2 linked regions of the Homo sapiens genome follow. Each later gene encodes a partner of the first gene's protein in a complex. Each region holds a gene or a part of one and is shown on either strand. Other genes may lie near its edges. The genes, in order: MCHR2 and PMCH. A codon is read from its position in the direction of its gene.

Region 1 (15,727 bases):
CTCTTCCTCTTCCAGTTTTGGATAGGTATGTAATTAAATTTTTTCACAGCATATAGTATGCCATCCAAATCCCCACCCTTGCTTTAGGATTAGTTCTACAATTAAATACATTCCATGCTCGCTGCCATTCTTTTTGCTTTGGGTTAAGGAATTTGTCAAAAACTATACAAAAATTAGATAACAGAGTCAGGATTTAAACCAAAGTTTGACACAACATTCCATGCTTTTTCCACTACATTATGCTTCTTCTGAAAGTCTGCATACACACACATACAGACATATGCTTTAACTACACTGAAAGCAAAAGAGATCAAAACAGCACACAGAAAAAGTAAGCAAAATATAAGAAATTAAGAGTTAAAAAACAATAAAAATTGAAATAAATGGATAAACATATAAAAGTGACTGAAGTCACTTCATTAGCACCCCAAAATAAACACTGTTTTAAAATTTTTCATGGGGGCACAAAAGGTTATTTTTTATTGATAAGATTGGCAGGCCAATATTGAAAGAAAAGAAAAGGAAACAAGAGACTAACAAGTCTATAGAGGGTTAATCATTTTTTCAAAAAGGCTTTAAAACAGGAGGCTAAGTTAAAAATCATTAGGGATTATTTGCATCTCTGGAACTAAGGCAGCCATAGACTTCAGCAGAATATTTAACTCATTTGATGTCCCAAGGGATGGATTCATTGCAAGAGTTTTCTGATTTGGTTCTCTATGGCTGGTGTGTAAATCATTTGGGCTGTCTCCTACTGTCAGTTTCAGAAGACCCAGCCCTAAATAGCTTAAACATAACAGTGAAGTCCATAGGGTAGACTTTCACAGGGGAAGACAGGGTGGTACTTTCAAGATTGCTTATTTCAGTGGCCTAATGGTGACATCAGAGTCCAGGTCTTTTCCTTCTTTTCCACTGCAGCTATCCTCAGTATACAAATCTTTTCCAAGGATGGTCCCCACAGGGATACCAGATGATTACAGCAGCTAGTCCTCATCCTCATGTAAGCACAATAAAAGCCAGAAAGGACCATCCCTTCTTTGTGGACATTTTAAAGAAAGTGCAGTCCTTTCCCAGCAGCCTCTTTTGCACACTGGCCCACAAGTATCAATGGCTGGAATTGTGTCACATGCTCTTTGCCAAACCAATCATTGCATTGGTAGGAGGAGTGAAATTACAGTAATTGGTCTAAAATAATCTCAATTCATCCCCCCACCCACAGGGCTAGAAATGGACACACACTTGCCTGAAACTCAGAGCCACCCAAACTCAAGGCAAGGAAAAACGAGATAATCAATCAACAACATTTCTCATAGGTAGAAATAGAACAGAAAGACCTTCCTTTTACCCTCTGCCTCTCACTTTTGAACATTCTTAAATACTATAGAGGATTAGAAGACACATCACTCCATCTTTTTTACGTGCATCTTCTAATAGTTGATTGTTATTGGGCACAAGTTGCTACCAGCAGGCATATAACTTTTTCCATATAATGAATGGCATACTGGGTTTCTCTTCCAGAATGGCCATCAGGTAGTATTTATTTATGACTAATGTTAGCTTCTCAAGGCCGTTATGAGTCAATTAAGAGACCAGCCTGAATGTCTCCATGAGCTAAATCGATATTTACCCACATGCATGTACATAGTCATACTTATGAAAACACTTATGACTCCTATGAGAAAAATAAATATTAAACACAGGTTAAGAACAAGCACTTCCAATGGCTGAAAGAGGGTCTAAGATCATATGAAATACACCACAGGTTTAAAATTACTACCTACCAGAAGGATCATTTGAGCCCAGGAGTTTGAGGTTACAATGTGCTAAGACTGTGTAAGTGCACTCTAGCCTGGGCGACAGAGCATGACCCTGTATCAAATTCAAAAAAAATTATTGCCTAGATTTTCATGAAGGAAGACATAAAAAACAAGATAAAGAGGTAAAGTACCAATTTTAAGCAAGATTTATAGAATGTTTGTAATGTGCCAGATACTGTGTTAAGTACCTTATGTACATTACCTCATTTAAAGTTCACAGTCAGATCAAAGGTAAAATTACTATTATCTTCATTTTGCCAAAGAGAATACTGAGGCTAAGAGGGTGAGGATATTGCTCAGGTTCCTCTGTAAGTGAGTGGTAGGGCCAAAAATTGAACCCAGTTTTGTCAGGCTCTAAAACTATGTGCTGACCTTTGACCTCTACCCTGAGAAGACGATGGGAACAATGGTCCCCCTGAAATGTTTCCTCTCTCTTTAGGGTCCAAAACTGCTCCTGAAGAGCTACATAGACTTTGCTTAATAAGCCATCACTGCTGCTTGAAAGAATCAAGACATATTTCAAGAACATTACATAAGTCTCTGATACAGAGGCTCTCTGTAAACAACAAACTGTACTCACCTTCCACTTTTTGAAAATATAAAATATTTTAGGCAGAATTTATGCAATGAAATGCCTTAATAGTACACAATTTTATAACATTTTTATTTGAAAAAATGTTTTTATATGTGCTCCGTGAAATAATCTCCCTCAAAGAGAGCAGCTTCTTTTAAATTTCCGAAGAATTTTAGTTGGAGAAAAAATTCACCTAGATTTTTTTAAGTAGCAATATATAATCTTTTTACATTTCTAAGATTAAAAGGCATTTTCAACCAAGTAAACTTGCAAGTTCATTGGCTTTAAAAAACAAAAAAAAAACTAAATTCCATCTTAATGAAAGTGAGCAGAGCATTGTAAATGAATTAGCTCAATTATTTAGAAGGTTTGGGATGTCAGGTATATTTAGAACAAGGTGGGACCCAGGTGATGAGATTTCAGTGTTTTGCAACCTTACATTAAAATTGGAGTAATGAGCTACTAAATGTGTCAGACTTGAGTTCAGCATAGCAAAAGCTTTGCCAATATTTTACATGCTTAATACAAATCCCAAAGATAAAACTTGTTCTCATAAAACAAGTGGTTTCTATCTGTCTCTCTTAATGTTAGAGTCATAGGATAAACACACTATTTACCCTGTATGTGTGTGTGTGTATTCATTTACCCTGTATGTGTGTGTGTGTATTCATTTACTTCAATGATGATCAGATAATCATGCCAGAAGCTAGTATTCAAGAGAAACTTTATTAGTCCTGAGAGTATAGAAAGATTTAAAAATGTATGTTAATTAAGTAAAATGTACGGTAAAGTTATTTGGAACTGTATTTAATGAAATACACAATTGTTACTGAGCTGCATGGCAATTAGCTGTAAGTCATAAGAAATTTACAAAAGACTGTCATTTCATCAGCATTAATTTTACACAATCAATCTAACTTTTAAAAACTTTTCTATAATCATAAACTTTTCCCTGGATAAAAGCCATTTACATAATTCTGTCTCCTCTCTGTCTCTCTCTACATTTTTTTTCTTATCTTCCTGCCCTTCACCAAGACAGAGGAGACCCAATCCTGGACCCTGCCCAAGGCCTCAGTATCCACCTCTCCTCCTTCCCACCCTGATGATCAGGGTATCAGCTGCTTGGAAGCTCCAGGCCCTCGGTTCTTCAGACCTTGGAGCCACATCTAGTATGTCCTTAGATATGCATCTCCTGCTTTATTTGGAGGGGTCTTTATGAGATTCCCAATAATGTTGGGATGGGACAGAAAGAAGAAACCCAAGCATGTGGTGAAAGGGTGGTAACCCCAGGGAGAGAAAGGGCATATGCCAATGGTTCTGAAATTGTAGCATCGAACAGTTTGGGGTCAGAGGAGTGAGAAGGTGCGGGCATGGAGATAAAGAGTGGGGAAAAGAGGGGAGCAGAGCCGCCTATGGGGCCCAGGACCTCCACAGGAGACCCTAGCGGTGAATACATGCTCTCCAGGCACAGCTTCTGGAAGATTTAGCCTCAGTGCATCCTCCTCAGGGAAGCTGGGAGACAGATGGGGCTGGAGGACAGAGCTGCTTGGGCTTTTCCTGACAGCCCTCACCAGCAAAGCATACAGGCCTTCCTAGAAGACTTTGATAAATTTGGACCTAATCTTGGCTCTGTCATTTTTAGCAGTGTGACTTTAGGTAGTCACCAACCTGTCTGAGCCTCAGTTTCCCCATAGGTGAGGTGAGAATAATACTCTCTACATAGTTATCGTGAGGATTTAATGAAATGAAGCATCTGAGGCCGGGGCGCGGTGGCTCACGCCTGTTAATCCCAGCACTTTGGGAGGCCGAGGCAGGTGGATCAGGAGGTCAGGAGATCGAGACCATCCTGAGCAACATGGTGAAACCCAGTCTCTACTAAAAATACAAAAAATTAGCTGGGCATGGTGGTGGGCGCCTGTAGTCCCAGCTACTCTGCAGGCTGAGGCAGGAGAATGGCGAGAACCCGGGAGGCGGAGCTTGCAGTGAGCAGAGACCGCGCGACACTGCACTCCAACCTGGGTGACAGAGTGAGACTCCGTCTCAAAAAAAAAAAAAAAAAAGAAAAGAAAAAAGAAATGAGGCATGCGAACATTGCCTAAAACAGAGCAGGCTCTTGACAAAAGTGTTTTTCTTTTCTTCAGCCCTGAGGCATGAAGAAGGTTCTTCTTCTCATTTCCAGCTTTGCTCTAATTTCCCCACCTGTATATATTTCATTTCATTTCTGAGAATCAGAATGTTAAAAATAAATGCATAAGGGATTGGAGATGAGTAAATTGGAGGCTGAATAAGTGATAGCTTGGGTTTCTTCCAGCTGGGTTGAAGGAAGAGGAGTCATGTTGGGTGAGGGGGTGTCACTGCGGAAGGCAGAGGCATCCCGGCATCTTCAGGGCACAGGGACATTTTCCATCCCTTGTGGAGTGGGAGCTGTGACTGTCCCTTGCAGGGATTTAGGACCTCTGACTAGACAGTGTCCTGAGCCATAGTTCTAATGGGCATCCAAAGGTCCTGTGAAGGGGGAGGCTCCCTCCCGCACACCTGACTCTAGGACTAAAGTGCTAGGCTGGGGAATTTGGGGTCTGGTAGGATAATTGCTGCCTCTTATGCATTTAGCCCACAACTTGGGTTAAATCTACAGGCTTGCCTCTCAAAATAGACACTGGACTTAGCAGTATACACAACAGACCTCCCCTCAAAATCTATTTCTAGTTTTTGAGGAGAGCCAGGCTGACACTAAAAATGAAATTGGTTCTCTCACAGCATCTTGGACCCGTAGGATTGTTCCTGGCTCCTCTTTACAGTGCCTGGTGGCTTTTCCTTCCCTATTCAATCTCCGTTTAACTAACTACATTAATATTTCAGAAACATTCTGTGGCCTGTACATTGGTGGTACTTTATTCCCCAGGCTTGAAAAACTTTTTTCTTGTAATTGGAATGCTTTGTGCAGTCTAATAGTCTGTGTTAGGCTAAGAGTCGAATAACATTGCCCTTGTAATTATCTTGTCATAGCCATAAGACAGTAAGTGAGGGCATGTCTGCTCTGCAAAAGGCCAATTCAATTGTGACATTAAACATATGCCTGATCCAAATGAAACACAAATAATGGGTTACCAACCCAATCCAGTCATTTCCAGCCAGTCAGCATCCCCACCCCCCCATCTCTACCCACTAAGTTATACTAACAAACAGGTTATTATTTAAGTAGAAAAATGCATTATTAAGAAGTCAGAAAACATTCATTGAAAACAGATTGCCTCCCCATTTGCGCTGAGCTAAGTTCTATGAAATTAGAACTGCGCATTCCTCAAATCCAGAAGATTTTGTGTTCATGCCTGATTCTTTAGTGGTAGCTTCAGGGCCATTTTAATAAGAAGATTCCACCTCAAACAAAGATATTAGGCTTTGGGGCAAAGCCTCATTAAAAAATACAAGAAGCACATTTTTAGAAAGAATTTTTCAAAGGCTGTCAGAAGCCCCAGCTGAGTTGCAAAGGGCCTAGGCTACCACCTGCCTACTTTCCCCAGTTCTCTGACAGCCGCTAACTAACTTCCCTAGGGCCACTGAGGAGTTCAGATGACCTGACCGTGCAGGAGTCCTGTGACAGAGGAATAATATTAACTAAGTTAACTAAGTGGGAATGGGGGCTTCACAGAAGGCCGTCCGGAGGCGCGTACAGGGGACACGGGGATCTACCTGGAGGAAGAACTGAATTTGTCTTTTCTAGTTCAAAAAAGCCTTCCCGAACTCTTAGCAAACAAGCCAGTGATCGCCTCCTCGCCTTCGCCACTTCAGTTCAGCCTCTTTAGTCCCCATGGAGAGCCGGGATGAACTAGCCCGGCGCGCTCCAGCGGTCTCGGTCGGGGCCGCTGCTTCCCGGAAAGCCACTCCCTTTTTCTTTTCCCACCTGTGTTTCCATTTTCTTTGCCGAGTGTGAAACCAGCCGGCCACCCACCCGCCCCGCTCCGTCTCGTAGGTGCCTCCACAGAGCCAAACTTTGTACCTTCTGGGGATGGAGGGGGATCCCCCAGCAATCAGACACTACCGGCGAGCCAGCCCCGGGGAGGGGCGACTGGTGGACCAGGCGCCAGACCTTCCCGGGCGCGCAGCCCACGGGCCCTGGGGCGCGCCCACGCCAGAGCCCGGCCCTCGCGCGGCAGCCCGCGGGACGTCACCTGGGTGCTCGCGTCCTCCCCGCGCGGCGGACAGCCCGGGCGCCCTTCCTCTCTGCGGGACTGCAGGTCTATCCGCTAAGCGCGCGTGACCAAAAACGGCTCTCAGCGGGTCCCAGCTGACGGAAGGTGGGGGAGGAGTGCGAGGGTCTCTGAGACAGGTTGGGAGCCAGCCCCACCTCCATTTCCAAAGCGGGGGTCCAGGCACAGGAACAGCCAAACGCCCGAACCAGCGGGGTTACCTTTGCCACTTCATCCAATCCGAGCATCGGGTGCGTCGTGCTCTTTTCTAGGAGCGTGGGGTGCCTTCGCGAATAAAATCTGAAGGCATCTCTGCTCTCGCGGAGCTTGTTCTTTCTTATTTTCAAGTGCTTATCTAGACTGGTAGTCACTAAAGTTCCTGTGAACATTTGTAGGTGTTTTCAGCTAAGCAGTAATAGAAACTCGACCTCCATTTTATATGAACAAGTGTTTATTGATGTACCAAAGGTTTAAAGGAAGGGAAAGGGGAAAGGAGAGAGGAAAGAAGAAACCCATAATACCACCAAGGAACTTGTTTTGTTTTCACGAACTTTTAATCCACCCAGTACAACTGCTTTATAATGATCTTTAGCTTCATGCTTGCACCCTGATCAAATCTGCTGGCCTTAGTAGCTACTTAGCAAATAAGGTGACAAGGACGAAGCTGGAGTTGGATCACTTTCCACCCAAGGGAGCCTCATACGATTTTGGAGACAGGCAGCCCGCCCCGCATTCCACCTCAGCTTTATCATTTACTGTTAGGCATATGACCTCGGGCAGGTTCTTTAATGTTTCTCATCCTCAGTTGCTCATTTGGTACTACCAGAATTGTAAAACTGCCCTCCCAGGGATGCTAAGAGGCTTCACTGGCTTGACATATGCAAAAGCCCTCAAATCAGGCCTGCCATGTAGTTAGTGCTCAATATGTGGTCCCTATGATAATTATAGTCATTAGAGCACCTTTCAGAATCCTTCCTTCATCTATAAGATGAGTAGTCAGAGTGGCATGGCAAAATGTCCTGTATTTCACATTAAGTTAGGAAAATGAGAAAAACTTGAAAGGTTAGTGAAATTGGTTAAAATTTCAAAATTCAACAGATCAGAATTTTTAAAAGCAAGTGTAGAGTCAATGATTATACATTTCAGAACTGGAAGTCGCCTTAGAGTTAGTGTTTGTGCAAAAAGACATCATCTCTAAAATCTCTCAGAAAAATCAAGGAGATATGAGGATGGGAGATTAAATTTAAAGAGAATTTGGATTTCAAAGTGGGAGATTTCAAAGCATCTCTTAGGAAAGAAAAACAAGAAGAAACACTTGACCCATTTATTAGGCTGATTATCTAAACGCCCTCTACAATACCCTTGTGGAAAAGCCTTTTCTAGTTCTCTAATAATATAAAAATTCAGTCCACTATAAGTTTATACACCTTATGTTTTTTTCCAAGTTAAAATTTTGATGTACATTTTCCTGTTCAACTTTCCTATCCCTGACCAAATGTTAAGTCGTTTCAAAGAAAACTCAGAGTGGCTTGTCTTGAATTTCTCATTTGTAGGCAATCCATTTTAAAAAAGACAGGAATATTGGCAATGCCAATTTTTGCTACTTCAATTCTTTGTTCCAGTGATTGATAATGATGAGGATGATGATGTTGACGAATTCTATCTAGTTGTGTACTCTAAATGAAGGATGAATAAATCTCATTTTGTTGTTGTTGCTAAATTGAAAAGTGAAGAATACTTTTTTTTTCTAGCCCAATATATTGTATTGTGTTTTATGGAGCATTGGTGGCTAAAAAGCCTGTGCTAGACGTCACTATTTAGGGAAATATTAGCATATGAGGCTTAATTGCATCCTTGCTTAAGTTTGACAATTTCTATTGGTGTCAATGGAGGATATGTGGCCTTACCTTACATTTTGGTGCCACTTTTTATGCATACTTTAAAAGGTATCATTACATTATTTTTATAATAATTGGAAGGTACACAAGATGGGTGTTATCCCATTTTACTAATAAAGAAACTGAGGTTAAAAGTTAAAGTAAACCATAGACAGTGAAACAGAGGCTGAACCAGAAATAGAATCCCACCTAATTCTCACCCTGGACCTTGAGCTTTCTGATGAGGTAACATTCTTTAGATAGCAGTAGGAGAGCCAGAATGCCCAGTTAAAACCCCACCCCTGTAAAGTCCCTGCCTTTTTTTTCTCAGCTGGAAACTGGGAAGTTTGTCAGACAAAGCTCTTCAGGTTACTGGCAATTTATGTGCTGGGAGGTGGATTTGTGGGCAGAGCTCCGGCTGACCTGGTGTTGTCCTGCTATGGCTACAGACTTCTGACTATGCTTATCAGAAAAACTTTCATTTGGTTCAAGGATTTTTGGTGAGTCTCATTAATTCTGGTTTTATAAAAATAAAAGAGATTGGTGCAATGACTGACCCCTCATGCTGATGAGAATGAGGCTTATTGTGTTCCAAACGTGTATATACCATGGACTGCAGAGTGTCCGCAGCAGGTCCTGATCTCTATTCCTTCTCATTAAGGGATTGTTCAGGAACATCTCTCTGCTGACTTGGCATGGCTTTCTTCTGAGGACCCAGGCTGTTCTTGAGCTCCTCACTGGCCTGGGCTGGGATATTACTTGTCTCTGCAATCATCTGCTACCCAGCTTGGTCTTTGGCTCTGCACTTCCTCGAAGCACAGTCTCTGAGAACTTAGTCTTAATCATCCACTCCTATCAAAGCATCTGATTCCCTCCAAAATCCTTTGCAGAATCCTGACTGAGGCTCTCTAGGAAAATGATCTCTCTCTAAACTGAACCCGCTGTGTCCATATTGACTCTATAAGCTGAATTTTCATTGAGTTTTCACAACAGAAGGGATTTTAAAGACCTATTAACAAGAAGAATTTCTGCTAGGAATCTAGTAGTGGGTTCCATTTAGATTATAATATTTTAAATTGTCTCTCAGGCTGCAGCATCTCAGGAAATTAGCCTGAATTAGGAAATTCTCAGAAAGTTAGTCAGATGTCATTTTGTGCCCACTAACATAAGCATTGCATAAAAAGCAGTGAGATATTGCAGTGTTTCCAAAAGTGTGTTCTGTGGAGCACTAGTTCCATGAGATGATCCATAAACAAAGAGTTTTGTTGTGAGACAATTGTTGGTCCTAGCTCTTTAACCCCTCCTTGGATCCACTCCTTGCAATGGCCTCACCATGGATGGAGCATATTTCATCACTCCCTGACTTTGGGCTTGGCTATGTGACTTGCTTTGTCCAGTTGAATATGGATTACAGACACAGTATGACAATTTTAGGAGTAGGACTTAAGAAACTTAGTGCATTTTCACTGCCTCTTTTGTACCTCTGGCATTGTCCAAGAAGAACATGTCCTGGCTAGCCTGCTAGGCCAAGGAGGATGAGAGAAGCATAGAAAACACAAATTCCCAGGCCTGCTGCTTGAAGCAGAAGTGTTCCAGTCAAACTTCAGCTCTGTGAGAATACATGAAGATTGTTCTGAGACACTGAATTTTGGTGTGGTTTGCCATCTGGAATTATTGTGGCTGTAGATAACTAATATAATAGTCAAAAGAGTTTGGGACACATATAACTCCCTCTTCTCAGAGTCATAACCCACATTAATATATTAAAGGCTCTGAGAAGGACTGCATTATTTCATTACTTCCCAAACTCATTTCATTTTTTACCTTTATATTATAATAATATTATATAAAATATACACTTTAGATTAAAAAAAAAAAAACAAAGAAGAGCAGTTTGCCTAAGTCCTAAACTTGCTATTAAGAAACGTGGATGAACTCTTAGAACAACTGACAATGATTTTCAAGCCTTACCAATCAATCAGATTCATAAAGTTTACTTACTAGTAAATCCCCATTTACCTTCTCATGGCTGCTGAATTTCACATCAGTGACTTGTCTGGTATGGCTCTAAATTTCTAAATGAGTAAGAATTATTTTCCACTTCTGGTGCTAGCCAAATTTCAGAATGATTTTATAATCAGTATAAAGAACATTCATTTTTTAAGTAAATGACCAATGAATTATATTGATCAATTTTAATTAAATTCTTTTTTTCAAATAACATGACTAATATTTGCTATTAAAATTACTTAGCAGCTATGTTGGTGTTAAAAATGAGAATGAATAACCTAAAATACTGGCTGATCTCTTTTTCTCTTAATTTTTGAGAAATGGGGAGCACTTTCAGGAGAATTCTTTTTCAAGCTTAGTCACAATGCCAAGGCTTGGGACTGCTTTCAAGCACAAAAGAAAACACATGGGTTTCAGGAAACATATAGAAAACACCTCCTTTTTCATTTAATTTGGTAACTATGATGCATTGTTGATATCTGTTTATATTCCCTAAGGGGCCTTGGCCTGTGCTTTCATTTCAAACACAGGTGCTCATGTTCAACACCATTGGCAGTGATGTTTGTACAAGAATTTATTTCTTTCCAACTTCTTGAAGAATGGTCATAGCTTATCATATAAGCTGTCTCAGTAAGCATAAAACATTATGACCTGGAATGTCTTAAAACAAAGTGAAAAATCAGTTGACCTTTTATACTTTTCTTCCTTCTTCTAAGTGGACTTCTTTCTTCTCACTATATTTGCCCCTAGCTGGCTGGTCTATGGTAAGGTGCTATCTATTAACTAAAGCGTTAGTAAAATTCTTTCATTTTAAAAATCTTTCATTTTATAAGTGGTACTTTTAAAAGACATTTATTTCCAATAATAAAATGCTTGGAGAATTATTCCAGATACTAGGGGTACAAAGATGAACAAGATATCATCCCTGCCAATGAGGACCTTCAAATCTTGTGGTGAAAATAAACACATGAATAGTTACAGTGCAAATGAAATGAAAGTATGATATGCATTCTTAAGATAGAAGTAAGACATGTTAATTGAGTATTCTTAAAGTAAGTCATTTTTATGAGTTTGCTCATGTTGGCTAGCAGAATTGTGATGTGTTAGTGAGTTGAGGTATACAGCCTAGTTTTTATTCTTTGAAAAAACATGAAGGGTGCTTTACCTTGGGTTCTAAGAGAGACAATCACCACGATTCACTGTGAACTACTGCCTTTAATATTTGGAATGAGAACTACATACTCTACTAAACAGTTTTCCTAAGCCTAGTTATAGATAATAAACTATGTATAATATAAATAGAGAAAGTGGATGTTAATATCCAACTCCATCCTTAGGAATTATGAGAAACTTTGAGGAAACAAATTTAAATGAACTGTCTTTGGCTTAATCCACTCTGTATTTCTCCTGCTGCATCAGGTTCCGTAACCCTCTGCTATGTCTCCAGTGCTTCTTGGGCTAAGGTAGAAATACCAGGGCTGGTTTTCAGTCTCAATTAATTTGCACAAGTTTCGCTTTGGCTTCAGAGTTTATAGGGATAATTACCTCCCCAAATGCTCTGGGAAATGCATGCTCTTATTACAAGGGTTACCATATATCTCAGTTTATCTGGGACAATCCCAATTAATGCCTACTGTTCTGGTGGGACTATTAGTTATATCTTATGCCAGTGTAATGGATTAACGGGGCAGCCACCTATTAGTCCTGCTCACCCTGTGGGAAAGGGATGGGAGTGTTATAGTCTGCTCCCTTTGTCTTTGAGATAACAGCTGAAAACAGAGCAGAAATGTGGGTGCCATGAAATTTCCTGTGTGCACATTAATATCTTTCTTGGGGGGCAGTAGCTCAGAATTCTAAGGTTTTACCATTTCATGTCCCCATCAAATTAGCCTCATATCCTTTACCTCCCATGCATTCATTCTTTGAGAGTGAAATGTTTAAATGCCTGCATTTAATATTTACATTTGTTTTTTGAATTATTTTTGAATTATAATGATTTATAAATAATTTATAAATGACCTTCATTTTACTGGAATAGATATTCAGAGAATGATTTAATTTACTCAGTTTTAGTGTAGCACCACCATAAATCCAAAGGGAAATTGAAGAGAACTCACTGGTTTACTGTTTCTCAATCTTGGTGAATTTCATCTCTTTATTTCAAAGATACATTGTGTCCTTGTGTATTGAGTAAAAATAGCTCCACTATCTAATAACAAAGGCATACTGTATTTGACAAATTCCAGATTATAAAACATGTTTATAGTGGAATTGATAAAATTCATAGTAGCAGTACAGTAGGGAAGACAGATCTATGTAATGGGTCTAGGTATGGATTGGAATCAAGTCTAAAGGCCCCTTGTGTAAGTTGTGTGCTTTGAGGGAAGTCATTTAATGTTTTTGAGCCTCAACTTCATTATGGATAAAATGAGGAAGTAAAACTTGCCCTACCCACCTCATAAGGCAACAAATGTGATTAATGTAAAAATAATTTATCCAATGCAAAGCACTATGTGATCATAAGTGGTAGCAGAGAGCTCTGTCCTTCAGGCTATTTAGAGGTATTATACTCACAGAAGAAAAGATATCCACTTGAAAAGTGAGATTTCGTAGTCTATCTCTCTTTCCATTGGCAGTTCCATTCCCCCTATACAGACTAAAGCTCAAACAAGTTCAAGCCAACAAGAATTTGTCAGGAACTGATCAGGATACAGCAATGGGTTTGAGGTGGGCAGAAACTGCTAGTCAATGGGGCATTTCAAAGATGCTAGTGTTTGCAAATTCTGTACCACTGGTTCCTACTCTTGCCAGTGCCTGAACTTGATTTGGTTATAAAGATAAATAAGACATGGTTCTGCTCTAGGGAGCCCACAATTCAATGAGGGAGACAGACATACACAAGTTAATTTCAATATAATGTAATAAAGAGTATAATTTTTTTTTTCATCTTCAGCTGACAAGTTTATTTAATCCCTGAACCTGGATCCAAGGCATCTCCCTGTAGAAAACATCAGACCGGGGCAGAGATTGACAAAGCAACCCAAAGCAGCAGCTGCCAACGGCCGCTGTGCCCACCTCATCAGCAGCTAAAGAGTATAATTTTAAAAAAAGTCACAGAAGAATGTGGAGACACTTAGCAAAACGGACTCTCATAAGGTAAGTTTAAAGAAAGATTTCAGGTGCCAACGATATTGTGTATGTCTGAAAGCCTTCTGTAATGATCATTATGGCACAGTTCTCAGGTGTAACAAAGGGTCAGAGATTACACCTCCTTGCTCCTAGCATAAAAATAACAACCACAGATTTTGTTGTAGAACACACCAGTGCCTAATACCTCATTCGGTCAATTACTTGCTACATTTCTGAGCTTCAGCTTCTTCATCTGTGGTGCAGGGGTAATCATATCTACCTCAGTCTACTGGAATGTCAGCTCTACAAGGGCAGGGACTTTGGCCTCTTTTGTTTATTACTGTGTCTCCATCACTTAGAACATGGTAAGCACTATGGATGTTACCTTATATAGGAAGTACTTACCTGGCCCATGGTAAGTACTCAATAAATATTAATAGTTGTGGAATTTGTTTTGTAAATGAAGGTAGCTATTCATCTCCCAATCACCATTTTTTTTCCTAATTTTAATGAAGATCCACAGTAGAGTCAAGGAGATATTGGACCAGGTCCACTGGTTTACTCTTTGCTTCTCAATCCTGACCAATTTCACCTTTTTGTCTTTCAAGTATGTATTTCAAAGGTACATAGTGTCCTCGTGTATTTAGTAAAAATGGCTCCATTACACAAGACACAGGCAAAAGGCAATGGACAGACCATGCTCATGATGCTTCCCCGTGTATATCCATGTGGTCTGCCATGCTGCAATGTCCTTCCCCGTTGAGAAATTTGCAAGGATCTGAAGACTCAGGTCTGTATATAGAAAGGGTATCATCAAATATGCTTACTTTTTCTGTTTTTCAATGTTTGGAGTCTCTGTTTTTATAAGTGTACAGTTATTCTGAAAACAACCTTTTCCCAAATTGTCAGAGAAAAAACTGTGACTATGCTAGAGTAGTTCATCCATCAAGCTACATCCTTTAAGTACTTTCTCATCTAAAGGATTGACAGATTGCACATTTCACTGGAAAGCTGTCACACAAATATTTCCCTGGAGAGTTGGTAGCTCCAGAGCTTGAGAGTCGGATCTCAGAACGGCAAATACCTCATTGAGAACTAGCTCTAACACCAAATGCAGTTCTCCCGACTGGCCACTTGGTGGCAGTGCCAACTAAGTGCCAGCTCAAGCCATTAGATTGCACACAGGCATGTGATTCCTAACTTCTATTTATTCATTCAAATTTTAGGACCTACAAGTGGTTTTTGGTCAATCACATGGGCTAAGGCAAACTTTGCTTACTGACAAAGAGACTACATGACAATTTTAAAATACATTTCTTACCCTAATTTATGACATTATGTTAGGCCCCCAGTTAGGATACACCTGAAAAGGTGAATAATGGCAATTTCCTCAGTGTCTTTTAATAATCTCTATCTTGACATTATACATAGGTCAAACATAATCCAGGTCCTATCCCAGAACTGGTTATTACCCTGAACTTCTCCACCTCATAAATCTTAAACTCTGTTCTCTGACCACAAACATCTATCTCTCCCTCTTTGCTGTTACAGCAAAGGTGTGCTTTCTCAGAGATCACAGTCTCTTGAGCCCTTCTCTTTTTTCCTGTTTTCCATGTTCCATAGTCCATCCTGCAACCCTTCTGTGTTAGGGTTCTCCTGAGAAACAGAATGAATAGAATGTAGATGGTAGATACATAGATTAGATTAGAGCTAGATAGATATAGAGATAGATAAAGACTTATCATAGAAATTGGCTCATATAATGATTGTGGAGACTGAAAAGCCCCACGGTCTGGCATCTGCAAGCTGGGAACCAGGAGAACTGGTGGTGTAACTCCTGGTCTAATTCCTTAAGTCCGGAGAACCAGGAGCTCCAATGTCCAGGGGCAGGAGAAGACAGATGCCCCAGCTCAAACGGGGACAGTGAATTCACCATTAGTCCACCTATTTGTTCTGTGCAAGCCCTCAATGAATGGGATAATGTCCACCTGCATTGGTGAGGGCATGGGCTCACTGCTGCACCTCTTTTGCTGTGAAGTGAGTTTCTGGATCAGAAACAATGCTGTGTGGAAAACCATGATGGTGGATAAGGCATTCTGTGAATCCACAGATGACAGTTTTGGCAGAGAAGCA
Region 2 (14,950 bases), on another chromosome or scaffold:
TCTACTGAGATGATCATATGGTTTTTCTTCTTAATTCTGCATATGTGGTGAATCATATTTATTGATTTTCATATGTTGAGCCAACCTGCATCTCAGAAATGAAACTTACTTGATCATGGTGAAGCAATTTTTTATGTGCTGCTGTATTTGGTTTGCTAGTATTACGTTGAGGAGGTTTGCATCTGTGTTCATCAGGCATATTGTCCTGTAGTTTTCTTTATTCATTTTGAATGTTACCCCTAAAAGAGTCTTGGCAGATGTGACTAAGAATCTTGAGATGAGGAGATAATCCTGGTGGGCCCTAAATGCCATCACATGAATCCTTATAAGAGAGAGGCAGAGGAATATTAGGAACAGACACAAAGAGGAGAAGGTCATTGAAGACAGAGCAGAGGATGCTACCACAAGGCAGTGAATGCCAACAGTCACCAGAAGCTGGAAGAGGCAAGGAAGGGCTCTCCCCTAGAGTCTCTGGAGGAAACACAGTCCTGTCCACGCATTGATTTTGGGCTTTTGTTGCCTTAAGCCATCAAGTTTGTGGTAATTTGTCACAGCAGACCTAGGTAATAAGTAAATACTCTATCATATTCTAGAACCTATCATAGTTTCTACCATCTGTTCTCTTAATGAAAAAATAATTCATACATTTATTACATGTTTATTGAAAGGCTACTATGTGCCAGACTCTGTTCTTGATACTCTGTTCTTGATACCATCTCCCTCACTGGCATTAGAGGAAATGGACAATAAGCATGTAAACAAGTAAGATAATTTTAGACAGAAGCACAGTGAAGAAAATAAAGGAGTGAAAGGAATAGGGAAAGAATGAGTGGGAAGGGGGCTCCTTTAGCTCATAGGGTCAAGGAAGCACTCTCAGAAACCATGATATTTGAGCTGAGCATCACAATAATGAGTGATAAATGCTCAGATAAATAACAGGAGAAAGATGCTCCTGACAAAGAGAATAGCAGGGAAAAAGTCTTGCGTCAGAAATGATCTTGGCATATCATAAAAACAGAAGGCCAATATCACTAGAGAGTGACGAAAGAGGGACAGAGTAGCAAGAAATAAATTTAGCAAGGAATGCATGGTCCAGGCCATGTAGGACATTTGTATCAATTATCTATTACTATAGTAATATGGTGTAACACATGCAAAACTTCAGAGGGTATACAACAATAAATGTTTATGTCTTATGCTTTTTGGGTCAGTTGGGCATCTGCTAGGCAGCTCTACTGACCTCAAGTGGACTTTCTCCAGTGTCTGGTGCTTGAATGGATGTGTGCTGATCGAGGATAGCCTCAGCTATGGCAGTTAGGGTAGCATGGCTCTCCTCCATGTGGCTCTCTCCAGCAGGCTAGCATGGGAATGTTTTCATGGTGGTGGCAGAGGCTCAAGAGGGAATTCCCAATGTGCAAGACCATTTCAAGCCTCTGCTTGCATGATATCTGATAATATCTCATTAGTTAAAGCAAATCACATGCCTGAAACCAGAGTCAAACAGTGGGCAGGTTACCCCACCCACAGTGGGAAGGCATGCCAAAGTTACATGGCATGAATATAGAGAACAATGAAAAAGTGAAACCATGAAGGCAAGCTTATGCAGATATTTAGGGCCTTGATAAATTAATAAATATAAGAAATAATTATATTTAAACAGGATGATAATGTATTACACATGTTGGAGTTCAGACAAGAGGATTTGGCTGTAGTACTCAGAGAAAGCTGCAAAAGGAAGGTCTTGAAGGATATTTTAGATATAGATAGGTGGAGGGACAAGATGAGGGTATTTTAAGAGCAGGGAATATCATAAACAAAGTTATGATGGCAAAAAAGGACTACAAATACATAGAATGAAAAGAATGGCATGTATATCATTATCAAGACACTTTCATCTGATCCAATCTCTATCACAAACAGAAGAAAATGAAGCAGAACAAATGAATCACATGTTCCTCCTACATAGTAAAACCACTACATTTCAAAATGTTTTCAGTCTAGAGTTCTCAATATAAGTAGAAATGTCTGAGGGTTAAAGACATCCATGAGTACAAACATAAATTCCTAACATGTGTTAGAATGAAGACTCAATACACTACTTACCATAATGGTGAAGAAACCTGAAATTATGAATCAATGTATACAAAATAACAAGCTTTGTTGGTAACCCAATGTTGAAAGCTATCATCAGATTGTTATTCTCGAAGCATACTATCAGATGACTCCAAAAGTACTCAGAATCAAAACAATATCCAAGAATCATCTTTACAAGGTAACTGAAAAATTTAGCCATGAACATCATTTCAAGCATGTTCACATAACTTTTTTTTTTTTTAATTGAGATGGAATCTTGCTCTGTCGCCCAGGCTAGAGTGCAGTGGTGCATTCTCAGCTCACTGCAACCTCCACTGTCCGCATTCAAGAGATTCTTGTGCCTCAGCCTCCCGAGTAGCTGGGACTACAGGCACATGCCACCACAGCCGGCTAATTTTGTTTTTTTTACTTTTAGTAGAGACGGGGTTTCACCATATTGGCCAGGTTGGTCTTTAACTCCTGACCTCAGATGATCCATCCTCTTCAGCCTCCCAAAGTGCTGGGATTACAGGTGTGAGCCACCACGCCTGGCCTTACATAACTCTTAATGTTACTTATATCTTGATTTGTGGCAAAAAGATGTTAAGGCAATTTTCAAGATATTAGTCTACAGCTCTAAAAATTGGTGATGTGTAATTCACTACAACTGGTTTCTTCATTTCACTTTTAAAATAATTCTGTTTGGATGACACTAAGAGCAACATACCATCCAGTAACGAGATCCAGGGAAGCAGCTAGTCCACTAGTACTCATAGACAGAGATGAATTCAAATGTGCATATAATTAACCAAAAAGAGGAAACTATATCCATAATTCAAATCCACATTGTTGCAAAATAAATATTTAAATCAATTCATCCATGTTTACCAGCTGTAACAGTGGAACAAAGCTTGAGGATATCCACGTTCCTACTCAACTGGTCTCACAGTTACTGGACTAATTACAGTGGAGCATCATAAACTCTCCCTGTGTCTCCCACCCCACTATCTCACAAACCAACTGCATTGAGCATGGTGAGAAGATACCTTACCCACTCCAATTCTTGGAGCAAAACAAGAGCTTAACCATCTTCACCACTCTCAGCTGGCCCCCATATCTCGCGTCTCTAAGTACTCTCTACAAGCCCACATGCTGGAAGCCTTGGATCTCTCTTCTGAGCCTTCAAATTAAAAACAAACAAACAAAAAAACTCAAGTTGACTCTTCTCAAAGAAAGAAAAAAAAACTGGAGGTCAACTTACCAACCAAATTCAAACTGTCTCAGAAGGATAACCTCCTAATTTTATTGCTGAATTCTGAGTGGCCTAAACGCCTACCAGGAGCTACCCTTCCCTGCCAACTACATCAACTCCACACACACACACACACACACACACACACACACACACACCTTCTAAGGGAGTGTCAGGACTAATTCCCTTGCTAGCCAAATTACCACACCTTGTTCTCTCTTACCCTTGCTCTCCATCCAGATATGAGCCCCTCTAGATATCTATCCTCCCACACTTTCATCTCTAAACAGCACTGTGTTTCTTCTCTCTTCTCTCTCCAATCTTTGTACTATACCTTCTGAATAACAAATACCCTTATAGCGTTCTCCACTTCACTGATCCCATTACCACCACACATACTTAAGAGTTGGGAAGGAGGATGAATGTCTATTTTATTCCATACTGTTTACAGCATGTAAATCCTTTTGTTACTTGAGTCCCACAAATTCAGCATAGCCACTTCTTATCATGCTACAATATCTTCCATCTTTAAATAGCAATAGCCAACTCTCTTCCATCTACAATCTAATTTTTCTGCATTCTTCAGTGTAAATCGGTGACATACTATTTATATTCACTGTTTCCATTTGTTCTCTTTCCATTCTTATTAAATTCTCTCCTATCAAGGTTGAATCTCTACCAGTGTCATTGAAACTGCTTCATTAAGGTCAGCAATGACTATCACATAGCCAAATCAAAGATAAATTCTCAGTTCTCATCTTACTCAACCAGTAGCATTCAGCACAGCCAATCATTGTGCTTTTCTATATTTGAGATGATCGTGTTTTTGTCTCCTGTATTCATTTACAGTGGTGAATTTTACCAATTTTTTTCTGAAAGTTCAATTTTACATTCCTGAAATAAACCTCACCTGGTCATGAAATTTTACCTTTTTCATAACTGGATTCTATTTGATAACATTTTGTTTAGGATTTTTACATCCATGTTCATTAGAAATATTGGCCTATAATTTTCCCTTCTTGTAATAGCATTATCAGGTCTTGGTACCAAATTTATGCTAGACTCATAAAAAGAGTTGGGAAGTGTCCGTCAGAAGTCAATCACAGAAGCAGAACAACACACATACATATTCACATATACAGAAATATATACACAATTTGTTACATAAATCTGTCTCATGCAATTGTGAAAGCTAATTAAGCAATATTAAGCAGATCATTCCATCTAATGCTGGAGTCCACAGGGCAGGCTGCCAGGAAGGAAAGATGGATGTAAAGTAGGGAAGAAGAAGAACATACTGGAATTCACCAGCATGAGCTGAAACCCATGAGGATAGACTGAAACTCATATCATATCTTGCTGCATCTGACCTCAATGGTATGGATGTCCTCAGGACAGCTAGTCTCCTTTGTCACAGAACTGCACACATGTGTCCCAGGAGTCAGAGAAACTGAAAGTGGATCCAGCGAAAGTGGAGCAGTCGCAGGTCTGACTGCTGCAGAGCCAACGACATGAGCCAGCAGATAAGCGACATCATGTGTGAACCGTACGTGACATCTGCTTCACTTCTGCTCTCCAATCTTATACAGGAATGTCTCATGTGGCCCACTCCAGTTGGAAACATAGATAAAGAGAAGAAAATTCTGGGGTTGGGGGGAATTTCTGGGGTGGGAGGAATATATATGTAATATATATAACTCTTACAACTCAGTAATAAAAAGAAACATCCCTCGCCCAACAAAATGAACAAAAGATCTAAACAGACACTTCACAAAAGAAAATATATGAATAGCTAACAAGCACATGAAAAAGTGCTCAACATCATTAGTTATTAGGAAAATGTAATTAAAACACGATATCACTACTCATCTACCAGAATGGCTAAGATTAAGACTGACAACATCAAATGCTGGTGAGGATGTGGAGCAACCAAAGCTCTAATACAGTCTTTGTTGAAGTATAAAATGGTACAATCACTTTGGAAAATAATCTAACAATTTCTTACAAAATTAAAGATACATCTATCTTATATCCTAGCAATTCCATTCCTATATATTTACCCAAGAGAAATAAAAACACATGTCCACAAAAAGACTTGTGCAAGAATGTAGATAGTGTTATTCGTAATAGCCAAAAACTGGATACAATTCAAGAGTCCATTAACAGGAAAAGAGACAAGTCAATTGTAGTATATTTATACAACGGTAATAAAAAAGGAAGGAACTACTGCTTCTTACAACATTAAAGATGAATGTCAAACATGCTGAGTGAAAGAGGCCTTCCATAAAAGACGTCATACTGTATATTTCCAAAATAGGCAAAACTAATTCACAGCAGAAGAAATTAGAACAGTGATTGTCTAAGAGCAGAGTTGGAATGACGGGTGGGAGTGGGGAAAATGGTGGTACATGTAAACTCTAACAAGGTAAGACATAACTTTCTGGGGTGATGGCAATGTCTTGTATCTTGAAAGGACTTTGGGTTTCATAAGCAAACACATTTGTCAAAAATTAGCAAATATGCACTTATAGTTTATGCATTTTACTTTCCATAAATTTTACTTCAAAAAAAAGCTGTAAACAACTATTAAATTCCAGTTAATGATACGTATGTTGAAGTATTTCATGAAAAGCATACTGATATATGCAATATCCTTTGAAATGCATTAAAAGAATAAGATGATTAATAAAGGGATGAAGGGATAGAAGTAAAACGTTAATGGTAAACGCTAGGTGAAAGTGTATGGGTTGTTTACTATAGAAATCTGAGAAGGAATTTTAAGTTTTCTTATATCTTTTGATAATTTATATAAGTGAGCAATCTTGTTTTTACACTCATACAATTAGCCACTAAGAAATTGATGATTCTCAGTAAGCCAATGGCCAATTGCCATTTAATTTACTGGTGACACATAGCAAAGATGTGTTAATTGGAACAAAGAGAAATTTAATAAAGTGACTTGCAAATATACAGTGTTAGCAGTAGTTCAACAGAAAATGAAGATCATATTTTATATAAGCCTTTTGCCTTTGTAAGGTTTACTGAACCACCCAAGCCCATCTGGCAATAGTTTTACTTCTCCAAAGTTCCCTTCTACTACTTGGGGACATACCATTTTCAGCATCAATGAAAAAGAAGTCTACTATGCTCCACTGCACATCACAGTAACCAAAGTTTTTTTTAAAAAAAGTTATCATTAAAAAAATTGGAAACTATCTCCATAATTAAATGGTTATGGCAAAACCTCATAATGCTCAGAGGCTATGACAGTTTAAACAAAATAAAACATTAACTTCTCTAAACCGTCAAAATCATTTGGATTTGGTCCCAATTTTGAGTGAAGATCAGCCAAGCCAATTCATCCAGTGGAAATTTAAAACAAAGTACATAATTATTAATATTTATTACCCTCCCACAACAGCATCTAAGAAAAAAGATTTCCATTAACAAGGACTTTTTTTTTTTTTTTTTTTTTTTTTTCCAGACAGAGTCTCGCTCTGTCGCCTGGGCTGGAGTGCAATGGCACCATGTTTGGTTCACTGCAACCTCCGTCTCCTGGGTTCAAGCAATTCTCCTGCCTCAGCCTCTCCAGTAGCTGGAATTACAGGCACCCACCACCATGCCCAGCTAATTTTTATATTTTTAGTAGAGATGGGGTTTCACCATGTTGGCCAGGCTGGTCACAAACTCCTGACCTCAGGTGATCCACCCACCTCGGCCTCCCATGGTGCTGGGGTTACAGGCGTGAGCCACCGTGCCCAGCCTAACAAGGACTTTTATAGATTAAACAGGCACATCCAAACCAGGTTCAAACCAAGGGAAACAAAGTAGGGCACAACTAACAACATTAAAAAGATAAGGAAGCTCTAAGATCAAAGAAGTCAAGGGATGTCAGAGTCCTTTGTTTATAATTATAATCACAAAACATTTACTGAGAAAGATCTTAATAGTCCCCGAGAAAATCAGCAGTTAAGTCTACCTCAGATAAAAAGTACTTAAGTGAAATGGACAAATTATACAATAATGTAAATTCCTAAAACAAACTAAAAAAGAAACAGAGAAGCTAAATGTTACTACAGCTACTGAAGAAAGTACATCAATTCTTAACAACAAAAATCCTACCAAGAAAACACCAAACCCAAAGTCTAACAAGAGAGAAAAGAAAGAAGGATAAATCTTGCCCTCAATGTAAGAAATTGGTACAAACTTAATATCAAACCAAAGTCAATATAAAAAAGGAAAATTACAAATCAATCTTACTCATAATAAATGTAAAATGTACTAAATCAAATATTGCCAAATTGAATCCGATAATTTAAAGGTTTCTTCATGAACACATGGTTAGTTTAACATTAGAAAAATCTGTTAATATTTCCAAAGACTGAAGGAGAAAATGATCTGGTCATCTCAATATATGCAAAAAAAGCATTCAATAATATTCAACAACAATTCATGATAAAAACTATTAGTAAGCCAGAAACAAAAGAGAACATCCTGTACTTTATAGCAAGTATCTATAAGAAACCTACAGCAAACATTACGCTCAGTGGTGAAGCATTAAAATCATTATCTGTAAAATCAGTAACACTGTAAAGATATCTCTTCTCTCCATTTTCAGTATTTACTGGAGGCTTTGGCCAGTGTGTATGAACACATGAACAGACACAAAGACATGTATACACAATATAGATGAAGTTAGGAGAAAGAGATAAAATGCCATTATTTTATCATTTATATCAATTGTCTTCATACAAAATCCCAAAGAATCTATACATTTATAAACAATTAAAAAGAAAAAAAAATAAGAGTTTAGAAAGTTTTTTTCTGTTATCAAATTACTATGCACAAGCCAAATGCACATGCACATACCAGCAATAATGTTAGAAAGATCATTTCAAAATACAATTTATAATAACCAAAAATAAGAAATTCAATTAAATTATAAAGAATTATAATTCTCTCAACAAAGGTATGCAAGACCTTTATGAAGAAAAGAAAATGTCATTAAAAGATTAAAGAAGAAAAAAAGATTAAAGAAGATCTAAGCAAATACAGAAAAATGTCATGCTCATAGATAATAAATTACCTTCAGGATATCAGTTCTTCTCCAAAATTAATCTATAAATCTATAAAACCAATGTGATTATAAGTTGAGCATCCCAAATCTGAAAAGCCAAAATCCAAAAATGCTCCAAAATCTGAAACTTGTTAAGCATTAACAATATGCTAAAAAATATATATTCATTGAAGCATTTCAGATTTCAGATTTTGGGATACTTAACTGATATAATGCAAATGTTCCAAATTCTGAAAAAAATATCCCAAATCCAAAAATACTTCTGGTCCTAAGCATTTCAGATAAGGGATACCTAACTAGAACCTTAATATCCTGTCAAGTGTTCTTACGGAACTTGAAAAGCTGATTTTAAGATTTATATGGAAAAGAAATGACTAAGAATAGCTAAGGAACTGCTGTAAAAGAAAAACATGTGGGTAAGTAGAGGGCTGGGAAATTTGACCAGATATTAAAAATTATTTTAAAGTTATATTAATACTGTAGATTTGGCTGTGGAATAGAACGTTCTGAAAGGAGCCCACACATATATAGAAATCTGATATACTGTAGAGATGGCACTGCAGATTAGTGGGGACAGGATGACTTCTTCAAGAAATATATAAGGACATTGGAAAAAGTAAAATTACATCTCTATCTTATATCATACACAAAATTACAGATGAATTACAAACCTAAACATGAAAGTCAAAATATTTAAACTTTTAGAAGAAAATATATGAAAACACGTTAATAATCTAAGGATTGAGAAGGATTTCTAAAAAAAAACAACACATTAAAAGTAGTTGCCATAAAGAAAAAAGAAAAATATTTAAACATTAAAATTAATCAGTTTGGTTCACCAAAAGACACCAGAGGGGTTGAAAATATGTCACAAACTGAGCGAAAATAATTGAAACATATATAACTAACAATTAATATCCAGAATATATAAAGAACTCCCATAAATAAATTAGAAAAAGACAACCCAATAGAAAAATGGACAAAGCCAAAAAAGAAAAAAAAAAAAAGCATTTAACATAAGAGGAAACATAAATGGCTCAGAAACATATGGGAAGACACTTAACCTCTTTGGTAATTAGGAAAATACAAATTAAAAGGACAATGAGACACAAGAGTCAGCTAGGACATGGAACAATGGAAATTCTCATACCCTGCTTATCGAGGGCACAAATCGCTTACAACTATGTTGGAAAACATTTTGGCATTAGTAAAGCTGAACATATACATACTCCATGATCCAGTAATTCCATACTGAGAAATATACTCTAGAAAAATTCTTACATATATGTACCAGAAGACATATAAAAGAATGTATTATCTTATTCATTGGGGTCAAAATTAGAAATTAACTCTGAAATGTTTAATTAAAAGTCATACAACATAAACTCATCATCCAAAAGTAATGTTTATGGGCACATAAATATTCTTTTCATGGACTAATTCATTAATTTCTAAATTCATTAATAAATATTTGTACATATTATCCTTTTGTAAATGCAGAGATAAAATACACCTGACAGGTCAATTTTTGATATAGCATGAATGGCTTTTTGTTCACACTGACAGGCATATGTACTTTAATCACCAAAAACTATATCAAGTATTTATAAAAGAAAGTCTCTTTTGAGGATTATTTCAGTTTAATCAGGATTAAAAGGAAATAAAACTTTATCCTTATCATCCTTGAGTGAAATAACTTGAGTTTTAATATCTTTACTTAATCAGAAAATACACAAAAGGAAACAATAATATAGAGAGAGCCTGATGTCCTGTGGTCTTCCTTAATAACAACCCATTTTCAAGAGACTATAATCTACTCAACAGAAAGCATTCTACCAAGGATCTTAGTCAGATTCTGAGAAAATTCACACTCAAAATAAACAATGTGTCACTAAAACCAAAACAATGTAGGTATTAGCAGCTGCATAAAGGTTAGCCTCAATCTAATGAGTCATTTCTAAAATGATGAAAAGTATAATTCTTTGAAGTGCTTTCTATTCAAGCTAGAAAATATATAAAGATACAGAATCGTTTACCAAGCAGGCTGACAGAGAAATTTTTCATTTTCTTTCTTGTTTGACTGTATGCAAACATCAAACTAAGAATGGCAAAAATGAATCTCTCTTCCTATATATTAATACTAACTTTTTCTTTGTTTTCTCAAGGTATTTTACTTTCAGCATCCAAGTCCATAAGAAATTTAGATGATGACATGGTATTTAATACATTCAGGTTGGGGAAAGGCTTTCAGAAGGAAGACACTGCAGAAAAATCAGTTATTGCTCCTTCCCTGGAACAATATAAAAATGATGAGAGCAGTTTCATGAACGAAGAGGAAAATAAAGTTTCAAAGGTAAGTGGCAATGTGACTTGTCGTTTATTTCAATGAAAATTTAAATGATTCTTACAAATCCTCTGAAAAGTAAAACTGATACTTTTATAAACAGAAGTATATGCAAACAGTCACAATATGCATTAGGACGACTGACGATATTTCTTACATGCCAGGTAGTTCTTCCATCCCAGCAAACACCTCTTATCTGAAAGTGTTTTTTCTCCTATAAATTTGCATCTAAGGTATTTTTAAAAAGTCAAAAACAGTGCAGAGTAACTTTGAATTGATCAACAAGAATATTATACAATTGTATTATAGTTCCACTCCGAATACGATAGCTAAAAACCAAATCAACCTTCTCTTTACAGAACACAGGCTCCAAACATAATTTCTTAAATCATGGTCTGCCACTGAATCTGGCTATAAAACCTTATCTTGCACTAAAAGGATCTGTAGCTTTCCCAGCTGAGAATGGAGTTCAGAATACTGAATCAACACAAGAAAAGAGAGAAATTGGGGATGAAGAAAACTCAGCTAAATTTCCTATAGGAAGGAGAGATTTTGACAGTGAGTAGTCTTTTCAAAATTCAATTCTTACATCCTACCACCATTAAACAGAACTCTGAGTTAAAGTGAATTTGGATGCAATCATAACAAAATCAAATAAGACCATGGCTCAATTACACCTGCCAAAAATGTGGGATTAAATAGCAACAATTAATTATTATCATTTTGGTTTACTCAGAATTAGTTATACTAGATCCATTCTTTTTTTCTTAATAAATTTTGTGTGATAATTATAGTCCTTTAAACAATTTAAACTTTCTTCTTCCTTCAGTGCTCAGATGTATGCTGGGAAGAGTCTACCGACCTTGTTGGCAAGTCTGATACCTGTTGGTCCACATCATCTTTTCAGAAGAAAATAAAAGCATTTAATTGCCAATGGGAGGAGAAGCCCATACTGCTACTATAACTTGTGTATGTTAAATGTCTGTTTTAAAAGAAAGTAGTGTTAAGATGTATCAGTAACTGAAATGATATGCTTTCTCTGTGCATTAAACTTTGTGAAAATTCTGCATAATTATGACTTACTAGTATTTTTAAACAATGCTTAACATACTAACCTTACATACACTGTAGACCAAAATAATAAATCATCATAATTTACACCTTGATCTCTTAAAAATTAAGCATGTCTTTGGTGAATGGTTTATAGATACATAAACCTAAAGCATATAAGACACAAATTTATAGTCTAAAAAACTGAGTTAACTTTGCCTGGCCAGAAATCAACTTGTCCTTGGCAGTACATTTATTACTTTTTGCTACTTTAGCTAGTTTGCCGTACAATCTATTCTGTGAATCATTTGATTTCTTAGGTATTTTAGCATTTTTATGTTGAGGTGGTTCATTTCTATTATCACAGAGAATATTTTCACCATCCAAATCCACCTGTTTCCTTTTTGAGCTTTTATTTCCTGTCTGACTGGTTGATTTTCTTGATACTTTTTCATTTTTACTTCTGTCCAGATGAACATTTCCAAAACTCGTTCCAATTGTTGATCTTCCAACAGATGGATTTACACCCTCTGTTATGCAAGATAAAAAGGGGAAAGGAATTACATGATATTGAGTATTAATATTTACGAGAACTTTACAATAAACTTTAAAAATGGCTAACGAATATTCAAATTTTTAAAGTAAAATAATGCTATAAATAATATGATTGACAAATATAGCTACATTACTATCCTATTACTTTTCATTTTATCATAGCACCTCTGAGTTAGCTTTGGCCAGTAATCAACTTGTCAGCCCTATTAAGAAATATTTGTTTGAATGCATGACATTTAATCCTTAAACATATGCTACAAATTACTTCTTAAATACATTTAGTTAAATCAAACTGTGTCCTATTCCTATCGATAAATTTGTACTTAGATTTAACTTTTTAAATAAACTGAGGTCTTTAAAAATATTACCCTTTACATTTCATAGTACTTTGCAAAAATAACCTAATTTTACTTAAGTTAAAACTAATTAGTAGACTAGAATTAAATTGTTATTTAATTGCACAAATAAGGTCAATTACCAGAAAGGTCATTTTCCATGTAAAGAACACACAAAGGCTTTGATGCTAAATTAACATTATTCCAATTATCCTTGCTTATCATGTAGTCATCTTTATAAGTACAAGCAAATTGGGATCTAATTAAAGTTTGCTTCATCTAGTAACAGAAAGAAAGAAGAAAATATGCAAATTTATTCATTATTTTATTTCTTCATCTAGATAGACACACACTCTATAGTAATCAAGGTATAAAAATTTCCCTTAGAAATTCTATTACTCATTGAGAACCTCTCTCTAACCTTTTATATTTCATAGTTTGCAAACTCATTCATTGTTATGGCTAGCATTTTTGTTCTTTTCCAAAATAATAGCTTTATGTATATTTTTGATTTTTTTTTTGGTAACAGTTACAAAACAATCAATTTTAGACTCTTCGCAGGGCTTTGTTACATGTTCCTGTGTCAGCACTGCTTTGGAGCGTCTTATTGTAAGTAAAATAACAATACAGGTGATATACATAATCATAGAAAAATACAAGTTCTTCATCCTAAGAAGAACACACTCTTGGAAAAAAAATAGCATATGGAATTCAAGAAATTAGGGAGGGAAGAAATGCTAAGATGAAAAAAAGAACTAAGTGAGGTCAATCAAAAACAGGAAACTAGCAAAGAAACTGCAAGATAAAACAAAATGATATAGGAAAGACATTATTTCTCGAGTATTTAGGAAAACAAGAAAGATGATTCAATGTATCAGTCTAGAAAGATTTGACCAAGTGACTTAATGGTCAGAAATCCAAAGTATACTCTTGCATTTATCTTCAAACATCAAATAGGAGGGCCTAACTTTCTACATAAATAGGAGAAAATTACAAAGATGAACTCAATTCTTGATCACTGAAAAGGATGCCAAAAAAAGTAGTTTTGGAAATTTGTTCCACAAACATAAACCAGTGAGCTATTGGGGATAGAAATTAATTTTAGAACAAAGTAGCCTATACAAATAATGCCAATTTCAACAATTACAAATGATGTGTAATACCATTCAGGTTTAATGGAGAGATGTCTCCAAATAATTAGAAGTCACCTGAAATCATTTTCTGACATAGACAAAGTTTCAAATACATAATTCAATAAAGATGACTTCAGTAATTCAAAAATGTAACACTTCGAGTATAACTACATTACCCTGATTATTACTTACAGAGTATTTGTTGATACAGTCATGAAATCTAAAACAGCATGACTTTATATATTCAGTAGTTATATATTATATGTTCAAAGATCGATGCATTAATTCACTCAGATGTTTGTAAAGACAATGGCAGTGAAATCTACTGACTATGACTTAGAAAAAGTTAGAATATTCGTCTGTCCAGCTGCTTCATAAAAGCAAGTTTTCCTAGGATGACAAATTTTCTATCTTTCTGACTAATGAGGTCTGTGACAGTCTCCATCTCCCAGATCACTAAAAATTATGTTTCATGTGCTTACATGAAGCATTAGACAATTGGAGTTTTATCTTCCATTTAAGCATAAAATGCACAAAACTGAAAATAAACGTGAAAATATACAAGATCAAAAACTATTTTTTTAAAAGTTGAACAGAATGGACTCACAACCCACTACCTTCATGAATCCCTATGAATGCAACACTTATTAAATAGCTTCTACCTCAAGATGCCCTATATGTAACTGAAGATTTTAAGTAGCTCTTTCTGGACTTTATTAATCCTATAACTACAGATTTAAAGCAGTAGATAAACCTATTTAAATAAGTTTTATTAATAAAATTGACTCTATATTATACTACATAATAGTAGCATTATCCATGAACTTTTATTTCCATCTGCAAAACCAGTACTAACTGTTGACATTATCTTATCACACATTATTTTCACTTCACAAAAGTTATGGCTTATAGAGAATTATAAACTTATTGCTTATAAAGAGTTATAAAGAGTATAGTAAGACCACGCAGGCAAATAGATGCTGAGTGGCTGGCTTGGATCACTCTTTGTAACCCAATAGTGATGGCACCTAGAGTTAGCTTGGGAGATGTTAGCTTCTCACTGCAAAACTCTCATGAGCACCACCCATAAAATATTCTAAATAAAAACATAATACTAAATAATAATTATAT

The links.
Region 2: the proteins of MCHR2 (region 1) and PMCH are in contact, whole or in part, in a cryo-EM structure (PDB 8WST), measured with the Homo sapiens proteins. Residues at the interface, in NP_001035269.1 of Homo sapiens: His82, Gln92, Trp93, Gly96, Gly97, Thr110, Asp113, Gln117, Ile175, Phe177, Val181, Ser183, Cys184, Ala185, Phe186, Leu188, Thr189, Ser190, Pro191, Val194, Tyr197, Thr198, Tyr267, Gln271, Asn274, Met277, Glu278, Gln279, Pro280, Phe284; in NP_002665.2 of Homo sapiens: Leu151 (codon at 11,578), Arg152 (codon at 11,581), Cys153 (codon at 11,584), Met154 (codon at 11,587), Leu155 (codon at 11,590), Gly156 (codon at 11,593), Arg157 (codon at 11,596), Val158 (codon at 11,599), Tyr159 (codon at 11,602), Arg160 (codon at 11,605), Pro161 (codon at 11,608), Cys162 (codon at 11,611), Trp163 (codon at 11,614).

Annotation. Positions count from the first base shown.
Region 1 is NC_000006.12:99,987,376-100,003,102, forward strand, and holds the start of MCHR2 (melanin-concentrating hormone receptor 2), read right to left. Parts: upstream 6,849-15,727; 5' UTR 6,561-6,848; exon of another isoform or gene 6,389-6,560; intron 1-6,388. UniProt on the Homo sapiens protein: Receptor for melanin-concentrating hormone, coupled to G proteins that activate phosphoinositide hydrolysis.
Region 2 is NC_000012.12:102,193,327-102,208,276, reverse strand, and holds PMCH (pro-MCH preproprotein), read left to right. Parts: upstream 1-10,443; 5' UTR 10,444-10,506; coding exon 10,507-10,755; intron 10,756-10,756; exon of another isoform or gene 10,757-11,105; coding exon 11,106-11,304; coding exon of another isoform or gene 11,305-11,312; exon of another isoform or gene 11,313-11,575; coding exon 11,576-11,625; 3' UTR 11,626-11,818; downstream 11,819-14,950. Other genes in the region: PARPBP (PCNA-interacting partner), read right to left, coding at 11,986-12,326, 12,830-12,965. UniProt on the Homo sapiens protein: MCH may act as a neurotransmitter or neuromodulator in a broad array of neuronal functions directed toward the regulation of goal-directed behavior, such as food intake, and general arousal. May also have a role in spermatocyte differentiation.